Regions from separate parts of the Homo sapiens genome. Here region 1 is linked to region 2. The links come from fine-mapping of genetic effects on gene expression. A gene starts in region 2. The other region holds a variant in brackets. All regions are shown on one strand. Distances are from middle to middle.

Evidence for each region.
Region 1: its variant is fine-mapped to the expression of POMT2 in lung (GTEx, PIP above 0.99).

Annotation. Positions count from the first base shown.
Region 1 is chr14:77,290,534-77,298,933 of GRCh38, reverse strand. POMT2 (protein O-mannosyltransferase 2) reads left to right here. Exons shown (of 21, transcript NM_013382.7): 8 at 163-245; 9 at 2,661-2,770; 10 at 7,554-7,620. Among named protein-coding and RNA genes, the nearest start is that of NGB, 24 kb to the right of the region's middle. The variant G/A (reference allele first, on the strand shown) is at 3,355.
Region 2 is chr14:77,316,677-77,324,929 of GRCh38, reverse strand. POMT2 (protein O-mannosyltransferase 2) reads left to right here and starts at 4,047. Exons shown (of 21, transcript NM_013382.7): 1 at 4,047-4,496. The coding sequence starts at 4,249. GSTZ1 (glutathione S-transferase zeta 1) reads right to left here and starts at 3,894. Exons shown (of 9, transcript NM_145870.3): 1 at 3,747-3,894; 2 at 9-60. The coding sequence starts at 3,761. RefSeq lists enhancers at 3,231-3,280, 2,812-3,673, 3,551-3,820 and silencers at 3,901-4,280, 4,511-4,560.

The sequences.
Region 1 (8,400 bases), 26 kb after region 2:
GGGATTTGGACCCCAGTTTCTCCAACTCCATCACCCACCTCTGTCCCATGATCTGATTCTACTTTCCTTAAACTATCTGAGCAGAGCTCTTCCCAGCGCTCCTGGGAAATCACACTTTCACTCCTTTAACTTGACTCTCTTCTGCTCTTCCTCTCCCCACAGTGGCCCTGGTGACGGTTTCTTCAGTTCTGCCTTCCAGGCCCGGCTTTCAGGGAACAACCTGCACAATGCTTCCATCCCTGAACGTGAGTGTCTCTGGGCCATTACAAAGGTAGAAGGCAGAGGGGTGTCCTGGGAGTTGAATTGGAAAAGACAAATATGATGGCTTTGGGTTATTTTAGCCTGTGATGGCACGGTGGGAGAAAGACCCAGATAGATCTGGTGAAAATACTCGAGAGTGAATCAGGACAGAGGAGAGGAAGACATCCTGAGCAGCAAGCTCTCTGACCCTAAAGAATGACTTCTCCTTGGTGGCTCTCCAAGCCAGCTCTGTGGGAAGGTCACTCAGAGAGAATATGGTGACAGCACCAGGCCCTTCAGAGCCAGTTTTTGGTTTCCCGCACCGCTTTCTGAGTGTTGCATTCGTTCATCTATGACAGATGGTAGTGGAGCGCGTGCTCACCCTCCAGAGATGGAGCCTGGTGTAGAGGAGCTCCACACGGTGTGGCTGGAAGCGTTAAGTACGTAAAGAGGGAGCACAGCTCTGGGGATTGACAGGCGTGAAGGAGCATGGCTGCTGGGCGGTTAAGGGCATCAGAGGTTCGTGATGTGGGTTGCCTTGGAGTCAGGCCCTGGAAGAATGTGTGGCTTTCAACAGAGGAGAGGGCATCTCAGGCAGGAGGGATGACATGATCAAAGCTGAGGACAGAGTAAAACTTGAGGCACAGGTATATGCAGAAAACTACTGGAAGATAAATGTGAAAAGTTAGGTTGGGCCCAGACTATGAGGGTTTGAGGTGTCTGGATGAGGTATTTGACTTCCTAAAACAGGCCGTGGAGACCTAGTGGAGGTCTTTGAGCAGCCAGGAGGCCAGGAAGGCTGTGCTATAGGGAGATGACATGGGTGGGAGAGTCGAGGCTGGCTGGGGAGGGGACAGGATTGTAGGCAAGAGAAACCCTCTGGGAAGCTATTGCAGGAACCTGAGCTGGGTATGGTGGGGCAGCCACAGGGTAAGGCAAATGGGCATATACAAGGGAGATCTGGACACAGCAAGAGAGGAAGAAAGATGTCACTAAGGACTTGAGTGCAGGTGATTGCTTCCTGGAGGCAGAGACTGCATCTTACTCATTTTAGTCTTTCCAGGACTTTGCACAGTGCCTAAAATACAGCGGACTCTCCCAGACTGGGAAGAATGAGAAATAGGGAAGCAGGAGAAGAAGTTGGGTTGGAAGGGCAGATACTGAATTCCACGCGAGAGGGGTTGATAGTGAGCTGCTTGGGGAAATTGTTGCCATGGGGCCAGTGGGATTTGGGGCTGATGCTTTCAAAGGAGGAATCAGACAAGTAAAACGGTAATTGATGCTGTGGCAGTAGCTGTGATTTGTAAGGAAACTGTAGAAAGAGGAAAAGAATAGAGCTGAGGTCAGATCACTGGGGAATGCAAGAGGAGGAGGAATTAGGAGAGGAGACTGCGGAGGAGCAGCCCTTGAGAGAGTGTGCGGTCGAGAAGTGGGAACAGAGAGCATTTCAAGAAATAAAGGTGGTCAGCCATGTGCAGGGCTGCCGAGGTTGGCCTGCCTGAGAACTCAGAAGAACACAGCTGTGGAGTTTAGCAAATTCCTGCTCATTATTTAAAGGCCTAGTTCAGCTGTCACCTCTTCGATCAAGTCGTCCTCTCTTTAATCCTTGGGAGAGAATTTGGCCTGTTCCGAGTTCCCACCATTCCCACCATGTCACACATTGTCACGCCTTTGTGGGGCACTTGCCCACTGTCCTATACTTGTCAGTGTGTGAAGCCATCTTCCTTGTAGACAGGGCTCTTCCAGGGCCACAGGCAGGCCTCCTCCACCTTTGGATCCAGTGTGTAATTCTTCTGGTCCACTGAATGAACAAAGAAAAACAGGAGCAGGTCATTCCAGCGGATTGGAAGAAGGACAGTATTAAGGAAAAAAGGTTTCTCAATAACTCAGGGCCTATAGGAGCAGGGGATGCTCTTGAGAAGTGGTTTTCTGTGTTTTTTGTTTTTTAATTCAGAGTAAAACAAAACACCATTGAACAGTTATTTCATATGGTACTAGATTCAAAAGGCACGAAAGGATATAGAGTGAAAAAAATGGTTTGTCAAAATGCTGTATCTTGGAGAACATTCCAGGCGAAGACAGAAGATACTTCCTTCTTTATTCCATTGAATCCATGTGGAGACCTTGAGAAGGACAAGTTGTTTTTCGTCTTTTGCTGTTACACGTAGTGCTTTGATAATGACAGTGTTAACACAAGCTTCTTCTGAAGCCCTCAGGAGGCGGGGGAGTAAGTGGGCCCTGTGGTGAACTCTGTCTTGAGTCGGCTCCATGGGAGTGAGAAGGTAGCTGGGCTTCAGTCCAGGGCCCAGGGGAGTCTCGCAGAGGGTTAGTGAGCCCTGTGGCTTCCGAGGCTCCTCGCAGGCACGGACAGCCTCTGGCACTGTGCCAGCTCACCCCTCTGCTGTCTCCCTTCCTCCCAGACCTGGCCTACGGCTCTGTGATCACTGTGAAGAACCTCCGGATGGCCATCGGCTATCTGCACTCCCACAGGCACCTCTACCCCGAGGGCATTGGTGCCCGTCAGCAGCAGGTCAGTGAGCCTTTTGTGCACTTGTACGGCAGCAATGCTGTTCGCCATGACAGTTCACTCTCTTGCCTCCTATCCTTTGCTCATCCTGTTCGCCCTGCTTGAAACATTCTTCCTAGCCCTGCACCCTTCTGTTTTCTCTGGCTAACCCCAGCTTCTCTAGGCATCAGCATAGGTGTTCTTTAGTGACAACCATGTCCCACCTCTCCATGGTGCTGGGTGGGGTGCCCCTCTGATGAGAGGCTTGGTGGCACCTTCCACATGCCTACGTGGTAAACCTTCTCATATTGAACTGTGCATGCTTACTTCCCGCCGTCTCTTTGGTACTTGATTGCTAGCTCCTGGAAGGCTCAATTGCCTAGCACGGTGCCTGCTATGGGATGGGTGATGAATAAAGTGTGGTATTTATGAACACAGACCTGGGAACCAGACTAGATGATCGGGGTGTGAAGCCTGCTTTCATATAGAGTGTCACTTTGGACAAGTTCATCTTCTTGTGCTTCAGTATCCTCTTCTTTTTTTTTTTTTTTTTTTTGAGATGGAGTCTTGCTCTGTCACCCAGGCTGGAGTGCAGTGGCGTGATCTCA[G/A]CTTACTGCAAACTCCGCCTCCCGGGTTCACGCCATTCTCCTGCCTCAGCCTCCCGAGTAGCTGGGACTACAGGCACCCGCCACCACGCCTGGCTAATTTTTCGTATTTTTAGTAGAGACAGGGTTTCACCGTGTTAGCCAGGATAGTCTCGATCTCCTGACCTCATGATCCACCTGCCTCGGCCTCCCAAAGTGCTGGGATTACAGGCATGAGCCACCGCGCCCAGCCTGTATCCTCCTCTTTAAGTTGGGGAAAATGAGTAGTACCTCTCTCCATCAAAGGGCAGTTGTGAGGATTAAATGAGATAACAATGTGAAGTGCTTATGAAAGATTAGCCATGTGAGTATCATCTGAATGAGTGAACGATGCTGTGTCCATGTTAAGGAGTGTTTGTGTGGCTGCAGTGGATGGTGCCTGAGAGGGAGAAGCAGGATGCTGAAGAGGTTGGTGGGGCCATATTGGGGAGAGGCCTGTGTTATAGTAGATTTGACTTTGCTCCATAGACATTAGGGAGGCAATCAAAATTATTATGATTATGATTAGATCTCTAGTTTAGAAAGGTAACTTTAGTGGAAATGTGATAGCTCACAAGGAACCAGTTTGGAGGCAATAATTATGACAAAGGACAGTGAACAGAGGCAAAAAGCATGGAATCTTTACTTTGCAAAGATTTGTTCTTTGCAAAAAGTTGTCTCTCTCCAAATGCTTTATTTTTATTTCCCTTTTAGTTGCTAGAAAGTGACTCAGTATGTATTAGTGCAATTTCATGCTGCTGATAAAGACATACCTGAGACTGGGCAATTTACAAAAGAAAGAGATTTAATTGGACTTAAAGTTCCACATGGCTGGGGAGGCCTCACAACCCCGGTGGAAGGCAAGGAGGAGCAAGTCACATTTTATGTGGATGGCGGCAGGCAAAGAGAGAGCTTGTGCAGAGAAAATCCCATTTTAAAAATGGTTTTAAAAACCATCAGATCTCTGGCCAGGTGCGGTGGCTTATGCCGAGGTGGGCGGATCACTTTAGGTCAGGAGTTTGAGACCAGCCTGGCCAACATGGTGAAACCCCATCTCTACTAAAAATACAAAAAAATTACTCGGGCTTGATGGCACGTGCCAGTAATCCCAGCCACTCAGGAGACTGAGGCAGGAGAATCACTTGAACCGGGGAGGTGGAGGTTGCAGTGAACTGAGATTGCGCCACTGTACTCCAGCCCAGGCAAAAGAGTGAGACTCCATCTCAAAAAATAAAAAAATAAAACCATCAGATCTTGTGAGACCCATTCACTCGTGACTCAATCATCTCCCACCGGGTCCCTCCCACAACACGTGGGAATTAGAGGAGCCACAAGATGAGAATTGGGTGGGGACATAAAGCCAAACCATATTACAGGGTATTGGATTTTAGTATCAGTTTCTTATCCTTAATTCTCCATTCATGTCTGGCCCAGTGGTTTTCAGCCCTGGCTGCACTTAGAATCAACGGAGAGATTTTTAAAAATTCTGATGCCTGGACTCCACTGCAGAGATTATGATTTAATTGATCTAGGATGAGGCCCATGCATTATGCATTTTTGGTTTGGTTTTAAGCTGTCCAAATTATTCTAAGTCATGTACACCCAGGGCAGAGAAAACTAGATGTTCTGTGTTCTCATGTGTTGATAAATTGCTGCAGGTGTCATGTAGAAGACACTACAGTTACAGACCTGGTGACCAGAACATCTACACTGTGCAAAGGGAGAGAAAGGCCAAACTCTGAAAGGCTCTGTTAAGCTAGTGTTATGTACGTAGAGCCCATGTGTGGAGGTGTGAAACGTGATGGTGGTATAGGGAAAGTGCATTGCGCCAAGGGACGAAAGTGTCTGGCTTTGTCATTGACCAGATCTTTTAGCCTTTCATCCTGTTTCCTCATCTGTAAATTGAGGGGATTGGACTAAATAATCTCCAGTGGCCCTTCCTGCCATGCAGTTTAATGTCTTGTTAACATGTCTAGGTCTCTATTTTAGAATGTTTTTAAAGCATAGCATTTATAAAATTGGAAAATGTAGAAAAGTATAAAAAAGAAAACAAAAGCTACATGTAATCCCAGAAGATTAAGTGTTTATCTGAATGTTTTAATGTACAACATTCTGCTATAATTGGATACTTGTGTTCTTAGGAAATCTCATGGTATAAAAATCTCCATTGTCAAAACAAACATTTCAGTGGGAAAAGGGGCCATGGACTGTACTCATGATAAATAAATAATTTTTCTTGTAGGAATTTTAATCATAATTGCTCTTGTAAAACAGACACACAAAGACTGCTCTCCTACCACACATCTACACAGAGTACACACACGAGCATCATAGAACCTTAACTTCCTTGAGCAAATCCAGGCTGGATGGACGATATCGAGCTTTTTCTCAGGAATGTAGACTTCATTTTAATTTCTTTATGAGCACCAAAACTTTTTAGCTTCTTGTATATTCTTAATAACATTATCCCTAATTTTTTTTTCCTGAGGAACAAAGCAAATACCACTCAAAAGAAGCAGCCATAATGCAAGCAAAATAATTTTTCCCCTAAATGCTAATTCTAAATCTCTTTGTAAGTACAGTCATGCATCGGGGGGATACCTTCTGAGAAACAGGTCATTAGGTGATTTGATCGTTGGGTGAACATCATAGTATGTACTTACACAAACCTAGGTGGTCCAGCCTACCACACACCTAAGCTACATGGTATAGCTGATTGCTCCTAGACTACAAACCTGTATAGCATGTTACTGTACTGAATACTGCAGGCAGTTGGAACACAGTGGAACACAATGGTAAGTATTTGTATTAACTTAAACATATCTAAACATGGAAATGGTATAGTAAAAATATGGTATTATAATCTTATGGGGCAACCATTATATATGCAGTTTGTTGTTGACCAAAATGTCTTTATGTGGCATATGACTATAAATTGGTCATATTTTATCCAATTGGGGTTATAAAAACTCATTTGTGAGAGTTCTCTACTTGTCTACATAATTGGCATAATTGGACGTATATAGTCTCTATCCTGGGAGCATTTATTTTGCGGCCCTGGTTTGAATTCTGTCTCCCCAACGCATAAGCTGTGTGACCTTGAGCAAATTACTTAACTTCAGTTTCCTTGTAAGTAATGTGGGGATAACCATAGTACCTATGGCATAGAGCTGTAATAATGGTTAAATGAGATAAGACTTGCCCAATGCTTAGAACAGTGCCTGGTAATAAATGGTAGCCATTTTCAGCATCAGCATTTCATGAGCCTTTTCCCATGTTGCTAAAAAAATGCTCTGAAACATTTTTTATGGCTGTATAATATTCTATCCCAGGACATACTATCATGTTAACTATTTTTCTATTACTAGACAGTCATACTGTTTCCAGATTTTTTGTATAAAACGTGAGTTAAATTCTAGGACAGGATATCTGTGGAGCTTTTTCGTTTCATTTGGCCACATTATAGAAAATATAATAGCATGAATTTTTCATTTAGAAAGTTTGAGGCATGATCTTAATTACTTTTTTTTTTCCCAAGATAGAGTCTTGCTCTGTTGCCCAGGCTGTAGTGCAGTGGCGCGATCTCAGCTCACTGCAACCTCTGCCTCCTAGGTTCAAGCGATTCTCCTGCCTTAGCCTCCTGAGTAGTTGGGATTACAGGCGCGTACCATGCCCGGCTAATTTTTGTATTTTTAGTAAAGACGGGGTTTCACCGTGTTGGCCAGGCTGATCTCAAACTCCTGACCTCAGGTGATCCGCCCACTCTGGCTTCCCAAAGTGCTGGGATTACAGGCATGAGCCACCACACCCGGCCTTAATTACTTTGAAAATGCACTTAAATCCTCATTCTGTTTTTGTGTTGGAGTCAGTTATATAAGGCCTCATGGTTCCTCCCTCTAGAAGGCTGGATGGAACTTTTAGGACAAGATGCAGAAAGATACAAAGAAACAAAAAGGCTCTTGTGGGACAAAGCTTCTAAATGCAGAAGGAAGGAGAGAATCTCACTCACCAGTGCTACATATGAGCCCCATTGGGAAACATGGCCCCTCAGGTTGGTGGCTGGGGATTCTGAAATTGGCTTAAGCAACATTGGTTTGAGGTTGATTGTCCTTGGCCAGCTGTGCTGATAGTGATGGTATTCTCCCTCCTGCTTCCTCTTCCCTCCGCCCCCACCCCCCACCCAGGTCACCACCTATTTGCACAAGGACTACAACAACCTGTGGATTATCAAGAAACATAACACAAACTCAGGTAATGTGGTCAGAGACTGATGCTTCTTGTGCTGTTACTCCCTCTGAGCCCTCCTTAAGATTTCTCATGCCTGCAAAAGAATGATCCTGAGATGGGCTTTGCTGAGCATCTTTGACACCTTTACTTATCTCAATTATCCTTTCAATTATTATTTATTAAGCACCTACTGTGTTCCAAGCACTGTTGTTGGCATAGGGGATAAGCATTGAGCAAAACAGGTAAGAACTTGCTCTTAGAGCTGTCATTTTGAAGACAGATAGCGGAGCCCAGATTTAATCTAAGTAGAGGTTACTTGAGCATGCCACTAGGGGCTGGTGAGTGGCCCCAGCTGAGGGCACCTGGCTGCTGCTCTCATTTCTTACATAGAGCACACCAAACATTGCACACTCTAGCATGTGGTGCAGCTTAAGTCGTCTTGATAAGATAGAATCCTGCCCACTGCTCAGCCCTGGCCTGAGTCAGTCAGTTGATCTGAGGGGCTACTAGTCCTGTGACTGGAATTTGTCTAGGCTAATTCCTGAGATGTGACTCGATGCCTGCTGATCTGCTTCTAACTGGCCTGGGTGAAGGCGCTCTGAAGCACACCTATCAGGCTCTCAGGGCTTTATGACAGAGCAAGAGCTAGAGCCAGATCTTCCTTTCTTTGGTCAGACAGCTAGCTACCTGCAGGCTGTGCCTCTGCTGCAGCTAAGAGAACAGAGGGCATCTTCCACTCACCTTCCGAGCCTGTCATCTCTGCTGACAGTCCTGTGCCACAGGTATCTCTGTGACTCCTCAGCA
Region 2 (8,253 bases):
TCTCTTACCAATTCGAACTCTCCATGAGCAGGAGCTTCGGAAATAGGAATAGAGGATGGGCTGAGGAGAGAGAGGATGAAGGCGCGTGTTAACCCATGCTGGGTGGGCTCCAGCTTGGGAGGAGTCAACCATTTCTTCCTGTCCTGCCAGGCCTCCTCTCTCAGGCCTGCATCTGTGCAAATCAGGGCAGACTCCAAGCTCTCTGAGAGGCTCATGAGGTCCCTTGGCTCCAAAATTATGCTGGTTTGAGCTCCTGAGGTCCAAGAGGCCCCCAAAGGGGCAGCTAGCCTGAGAGTGCCTTCCATACCTTGCCAGACTCTGTCATGGTATCGTGGTGACCCTCAGCCTCCCAGGAAATGTCCCCTCTGGCACAGCTTCTGAGCAGGGAAAGGAAACCTAAAGGGGTGGATTTCAGGAGCCAATGGGGAAGCTGGGCTACCCAGGCATTGGGGGAACTTTGACTCTGGTCAGAAAGGGCATTTCTGGCCAGGCACAGTGGCTCACGCCTGTAATCCCAGCACTTCGGGAGCCAAGGTGGGTGGATCATTTGAGGTGAGGAGTTTGAGACCAGCCTGGCCAACATGGTGAAACCCTGTCTCTACTGAAAATACAAAAAAAAATCAGCCAGGTGTGGTAGTGGGTGCCTGTAATCTCAGCTACTCAGGAGGTTGAGGTAAGAGAATAGCTTGAACCTGAGAGGTGGAGGTCACAGTGGGCCGAGATCGCACCACTGCACTCCAGAGCGAGACTGCGTCTCAAAAAAAAAAAAAAAAAAAAGGCATTTTTTTCCAACTCGCAGGAAGTTTCTTACGCTCCTGCTGGGGCCAGGTTTGGTGTCCCCCCAACAGAGCGTGGCCTGGTTTTGATGCAGTATTTTGAGTGGTGGAGCGGGCTGGGAGCTGGCATCTGGAGTCTGGACCTGGTGCAGGAACCAGCTCTGCATGACCTTGGACAAACCTCTGCCTTTTTAAATCTTCGGCTCCCTCATTTGTAAAACAAAGGTTGCCCTAAAATGATGGCAGGGCATCCTCTAGCAATGCAGCAAGACAAGGAATTCTAATTTTTTGACGCTTTGGTACATATCTCCTTCAACCCCACCTCCCAGCAGTCCTCCGGGCTCTCGGCTGTCCCCATAAAAACAGCTGGCAGATATGCTCACTCACCCCAAAGGTGAGGTCAAAAGCTGGCAGCTCACTGGGGCCCTATCTGGCCCTCAGAATTTCTGTTTGCTCAACACAGTAGTTTAAAATGTTTCAAGTAGTTGCCAATGTTTAAAAATCAGGACATTTCATTCTAGTATGGTGGGTCATGCCTGTAATCCCAGCACTTTGGGAGGCTGAGGCCAGCAGATCACCTGAGGTCAGGAGTTCGAGACCAGCCTGGCCAACATGGCGAAACAACATGGCTAAACAAAAATTAGCCAGGTGTGGTGGTGTGCATCTGTAATCACACCTACTTGGGAGGCTGAGGTATGAGAATTGCTTGAACCCAGGAGGCGGAGGATACAGTGAGCCAAGATCGTGTCACTGCCCTCCAGCCTGGGGGACAGAGCAAGACTCCATCTCAAAATAAATAAATAATAAAATAAAATAAAAATAAAAATCATGATATTTTATATACAACACCTGTTTGTTTTTTTTCTTTAAAAAAATCTGGAGACAGATTTGGGTTCCTAAATAGCAGCAATTGATGGGAACAGACTAATGGCCCCCATCAACCAGCGTATGCGCTCTCAGGTCTGCCATGGCCCATATCTGGCCCACTTTTCTCATTTTTGTTACCTTTGGGCCCTTGGGGGCAGCTGGGTGTGCGATCTCTACTCCAAGGTTTAAGGGGCTCAAAGTTAATTTCTCTGGTACTTCTTCGGGAGCCAGCATTTCAAAGTGGAACCCAGGAAAGACTCGCCAGTGATTAGCACTCATGAATCTTCCCACCAAAACATGTGTATCCCTATGGATAGGGGAGAACTTGAAAGAACTTCTCAGATGCCCTGTTTACTACCCCTCTGACTATAGACATTTCACCAAAGCTCCCTCTCCCCTCTGCCACCCCTAGCATATTAAGCTGCTCTCTGAACTTGCTATTGCCATCCCTGTACTACCAACTCAGTCTGCTAGATGGCAAGGGTGTAAGTGGGAACCTAGGCCCTTCCAAGATGGTTCCCAAGCCCAGCAGTCCCAGCCTGTCCTGAAGGTACCTTTTGTGGAGAAAGTAAAGATGGTCCTGGCACAGAAAGCAGGTGATGGGCAGAAAGTGTCTTTCGAAGAGGAGGAATTGGGTGGCCACAACTGGATCTTCCTTATTTGGAGATGCAACTCCCTTTCCTTACCTAGCCAGGCTACAGGGACTCCTGGTGCCAAGGGACAGGGACTGCTGGTGACCACTAGAGTGTGGCAGACATTAATTAGCTTAGAATCCCTGAAGAAATGCCTTACCTAATGGCTAAATGCCTTTGGATTACACCTTTGGATCTGTACTACGAGTGACCAGAAGCATGGTAAATGCTGCTGCCCTCCGTCACGACCCACAAGCAGGAAACCTGAAATCTCTTAGGCAATTTCTGCCTTCTCTTACCAGTGATAACTATGTAAACCATGCCCCGTTCCTTTCTGCACTTGTAGAACTAAACTTTAAGCCCAAGTATCCATCTCATCAGCACTCCTAGAAGACCTGTGTTTCCAATTCAAATATGCATTCTGATTACTTTAGCAGATTTTATTTTTAAACCATGTCTTACACATGATTTGAGAAAAAGACTCCTAAAATCCCATTTGGAAGAGGGAGGACTATACATTATTAACGTGACGCAAAGTCCCATCTAACGTGCCACCTTCCTTAGTGCCACAAAAGTGGTTCTCAAACTTCATGGCACGTTAAGAACCATCTAGACCGCTTATAAAAACATGCAGATTCTCGAGCCCGTTCCACCAGAGATGAACAGAGTGGCTCTGGAGCAGGCCCCGGGAAGAACATGTGAAAGCCGTGAAGCTCCCCAGGTGATTGTCATGACTGCCTCTCCTCGCTCGGGGCCTTTTTTTTTTTTTTTTGAGCCGGAGTCCCGCTCTTTCGCCCAGGCTGGAGTGCAGTGGCGCGATCTCGGCTCACTGCAAGCTCCGCCTCCTGGGTTCACGCTATTCTCCTGCCTCAGCCTCCCGAGTAGCTGGGACTACAGGCGCCCGCTACCACGCCTGGCTAATTTTTTTGTATTTTAATAGAGACAGGGTTTCATCGTGTTAGCCAGGATGGTCTCTATCTCCTGACCTTGTGATCCGCCCGCCTCGGCCTCCCAAAGTGCTGGGATTACAGGCGTGAGCCACCGCGCCCGGCCCGGGGACTCTTAAAATACAAACATTACTGGAAGGTCACCTCCTGCTAGGGCCAAGAGAAGAGCATGAAGGGCTGCGAGAAATTGGGAGGCTTGGGGCGACGTTTGGAAGCCTTAGTGGAGGGAGGGGTCTGTTATGGGGAGCAGGGAGGGCGGAGCAGAAGTGAAGCGCGACCGGACAGCGACTCCACCCTGCTACGCACTCCCTACCAGGACCGCCTCCTCTGGCCCAACCCTCCCGGAACTTCGAGCCCCAGCGGGCAGCGCGCAGCACGCAGGCGCAGAGCGTGCCCGGCGCAAAGCACTGCATGCCGGGAGTCGTTGTCGGCCTGGGCGGGCGGTGCAGCTCACTTCTGACCCCGCCCCCCAGGGTCTCCAGGTGTCTAACCAGCTTCCCTCCACCCGGGTGCGCGTCACAGACCTTCCCCGCCTGCATCTGGCACTTCGCGCGACCCCCTCCTCCAGGCCGAGAAACTTCGCGCCTGGGACCTGCCGACGACTAAGGCTCAGTGAGACTCGACGAATCAGGCCCGTGTCTTTCGTCCGGGTAAAGCGAGGGGCTGGACTAGAAAGATCCTTCCGGTCGCCTCTGGCTCGCCCAGCTCTCCCGCCACGCCCCGTACCTGGGGGCTGCTGGGAGTTGCAGTTCCCTGAGCCCGACCCCTCCTGCCCAGTCCCCCCCGCCCCGGGCCGGCCGGCCCTCCCGGTCCCGACATGCTCTGCGCCTCCTGCCGCCTCCTAGCGGCCCGGGCCGCGACCACGCTGCCCGCCCCGCCCCGAGCCCGGGGCCCCGCGCTCCGCTGCAGTGAAGGGCGTTGCATTTCCCGGGGTACCCCGAGCTGCCCTCTTGTGACTCCTTGGCGGGGCGGCTGGTCAGACAAAGTGTGCCTCCGGGCCGGAGGGCGACCCAGAGGAGGGGGAAGATGCCGCCGGCCACGGGCGGAGGCCTGGCAGAGTCCGAGCTGCGTCCCCGGAGGGGCCGCTGTGGCCCCCAGGCTGCTAGGGCCGCAGGCCGGGACGTGGCCGCTGAGGCTGTGGCGCGAAGCCCCAAACGGCCTGCTTGGGGCTCACGGCGCTTCGAGGCGGTCGGCTGGTGGGCCCTGCTGGCCTTGGTGACGCTGCTGTCCTTCGCCACCCGCTTCCACCGCTTGGACGAGCCGCCGCACATCTGGTGAGTGATGGGAGGGACTCGGCGGGCACCATGGCAACCGCGACGGGACGCCGCCCTCTGATTGGCCCGAGGGTACGGAGGGGGCGGGATCTATAGGAGGAGGGCCACGGTGGAGGGGAACTTGAGGTATCGGGTGGGTTGGCCTCTGGCGAGGTGCATTCTCTGGGAGGGGGATCGTTTTGCTCTGGTGGTGGGGCAGTGGGATTCTTAGTATCTGAGGAAGCAGCCCTCATGTCTTCCAGGTTATGCTACAGTGCATCACCTGGCTTGCAAATTGTGGCTTTTAAAGGTGCTTTCAACTTTCCAAAGAGAATTGCAAATTTTTGGGTACAGAATTTTCTAAGGCCTGAGTTCCTATGTCTGCAGGATTTTCAGGCATCAACAGAGGAGAAAATACCTAACTGTGTACCTTTATCCTATAGGGCAAGGACAGTTTGGGTGTTCAGGTATGGTGACCAAAGGATTTTATGAGGCAGAACTCTTCTTGTGAGAAGAGATTTATTTTCTTAAAGGTTTTAGCTTGTACTATCCAGATACTGGGTGTCAGAAATGGAATTCTTTAAGCAAAAAGCAGGCAAGAAAACAGACTGTCAGGGTTGCTTTATTTAGAAATTAATAAATTAGCTTGTTATTGTGTCGTGACTGCTGGCAGAAGATGAGACTCCTGGGTTAGAGACAAAGGACTTTATTACAGGAAATAGGATGCATGTTAGAAGCAGTTTCCCTTGCCATCCAAGTCCCACAGGGTGACGCTATGGGTTTAAATGGATGACTGCACAGGCAGTGGGTTGCATCCAAGTGAAGGAACGACAAGCTTGGAAAATCTGCTGTTTTATAGAAGGCAGTACGCAGACCTCCTCTTTGTCCTGGAGGGAGACACTGCCTCTTCTCTCAAAGTTGCTTGCTGCAAACACAACCATGAGAAATGGCCCAGGTGAGATGCAGTCAGGGCCTTGCATTCTTGGTATACCCAGAATGATGTGTAGAGGCACGAGCAATCTGACAGCCTCTCTCACTCCTCGATTCTATGGTCTTGGCTTCTAGCAGATTTTCACATGAATATACAACTCCCCTGGCTACTCACATCTTTTCAGTTTGTCCCTTACAGCATTTAATTAAGGTTGTTGTCAATGGGACTCTAAGCAGCAGAATAAGGCCAGCTTACAGTATTTACCTCAACCATGCCCTCCAGGGTCCTGGATTCAGCCACTTGTGAATAAGTCCTGGGGGCACCGAGGAATCTTATTTCAGACATCTGGGCTGCAGTCTAAGACCAGTCTATTAACCACTGTGACCTGTGCACAGGGGTTCAGATTGATCTCTGATCTTTGGTGTCATTACCAGTAATTACAATAGCCCACTACCCTTGTAAAAATTTTTTTAAGAAAGTAATTACCAGGCTGGGCGCAGTGGCTCACACCTGTAATCCCGGCAGTTTGGGAGGCCGAGGCGGGCAGATCACCTGAGGTCAGGAGTTCGAGACCAACCTGGCCAACATGGTGAAACTCCGTCTCAACTGAAAATACAAGACTTAGCCGGGCATGATGGCGGGTGCCTGTAATCCCAGCTACTCGGGAGGCTGAGGTGGGAGAATCACTTGAACCTGGGAAGCAGAGGTTGCAGTGAGCTAAGATCGCACCATTGCATTCCAGCCTAGGCGACAAAGCCAGACTCTGTCTCAAAAAAAAAAAAAAAAAATTAACTACCATGATTAATGGAAAGATATTTTGTGACCCATTCTTCCTTACACTAACATATTACTTGGAGGAGTGCAGGCCACTCCAGGATTTTTGTTAGATTTTTATTTGGATCACCATCAAATTTGATTACCATTACAGTGGTTTAAACCACATGGGCAGTGTCACTGAACAGTTGCAGCCTCAATCACTAGACAAGGCATAACCTAAGTAAGGCCCTTAGGATCTCAGGAGAAGCATGTGATTTGTATCAGCCGCATTGATAGAAGGTGGTGCTGATCTGTGTGTTTGCACACCTATGAGGGAGGTCTGCGTTTGGGAGTTGGTGTTGATGTCATCAGGCACGTGGGAATAGTTCAAGACTGGCCGTGTCCATGTGAGTTTTTGTTTTCTTTTTTTATTTTCTTTTTTATACTGACCTGCTAGATAAAGTTTTTATGTTTTCATAGTGAGATGACAAACTCAGCCACAGGTCAGATTGCCAGCCACAGTTGCTGCTTGACCTAGATGGACCATGTGAATGTTTGCCAGGCTTTGGTGCTGGATAGGGACAAAGAGAACATTGTTTCCCTTCTCTTTACATCTCCAGGGTCCTGTGGTGTTCCTTCCCCAGATGCCAGGATTGTTTCTTTCCTTCCATTGCTACATAATGAGTGTGTCCTACCCTAGTAACTATAACTTCACCTTTTCTCCATTTATCCCCTACCAATACGCAGGCCTTCTAATATCCAATTGTTAGAAAATTGACAGAGGCCCATTATGTCTTCTACCTTGACACATGTGGGCCACTGTAGGGGGACTTTAAAAGCACTATACCCAACCAAATGATCATTAACTTTATGTTCTGGCACCAGGCCATTCCAACAAGACAATCTAGTGACTGAACTAGAATTAAGTCTGAATTACATAGATAGCCTCCTCCTCCCAGCTGATCTGGGCTTTCTGTAAGGGGGAAGAAAGATGAATCATGGCCAGAAATGGTCAGGGGAGAATCTCACATTTTCAAAATAGGTTTATATAACCCTCCACCCCTTTTTCCTGATCATTACCCAGTTGGTAGGCAAAAGGAGATGACCCATTTCTGAGAATGGCTGCCTTAGGTGACCAAACTGCTTCAGTAAGGTTTGCAGACCAGGAGGAGGTTAAAAACATAGAATCAAAAATCTTTTTGAGTTGATCTTTGAGGGAACTGTTCAGTACTTGACAATGTCATGCCTGTGGATGGTAGGGAGTGTGGGAGGTCCATCGAATACCTTGGCTATTGACTGTTGACACTGTTGGGTGGCCATTGCGACAAAAAGATATGCCAGTGTCAGACTGTAGATGGTTTGGAAAGCAGAAAACCTGGCAGTTTAGTTTCAAGGGCCACAGTGGTATACACAGAGTCAGATAATTGGACTGGAAAAGCAACATCAGCACTGTAAACTGAAAAAGTATCAGCAGTAGCAAGGTACTGATGAGAGCCTAGAGAAGGGAACAAAGTCCTAATGTCAATCTCCCAGGAGCAGGTGTGGTCAGTGCCCCTTGCAATGTGGCTTCCTTTACTGCAAGACAAGCAGGCCAACTTTTGGCAGGAGTCACAAGTCTGGCACGCAGTGGTGGCTTCTGCCTCAGAAACATGTAGTCCCTTACGTTGTGCCTAGCCCATGATGGTAGATGTTTCCACACCGGTTGCATGAATCCAGGTGGCTATGGCAGCAGTCTTGGTGGTGCAGGCTGGATCAGCAGTTTGATTCCAGTCAGTCTTACGAGAGTACCTGCCCTTAGTGTGGGCACCTACGTGAGTGATCCAGTCTGTCCTATTGGCAGGCAGCCATGATGTGTTTCCACACTTCTCAGCTTTCATCTCTCAGTATTTAGTCTTCCAAGTGGCATACCAAATGCTTCAATCCTTACTGCCATCAGCCATCCAGAGTTATCATTGGGGCTAAGTGCCTGCTGCTGCTTGGTGGGCAACATCAGCTTTTAACTCAGCCTAATCATTGGTGAGCCAGGCCTAAGCATTTACAGGAACCCCTGTGAATCAAGGGCCCTACTGAACAGCAGCTCGGCTTCAGGTA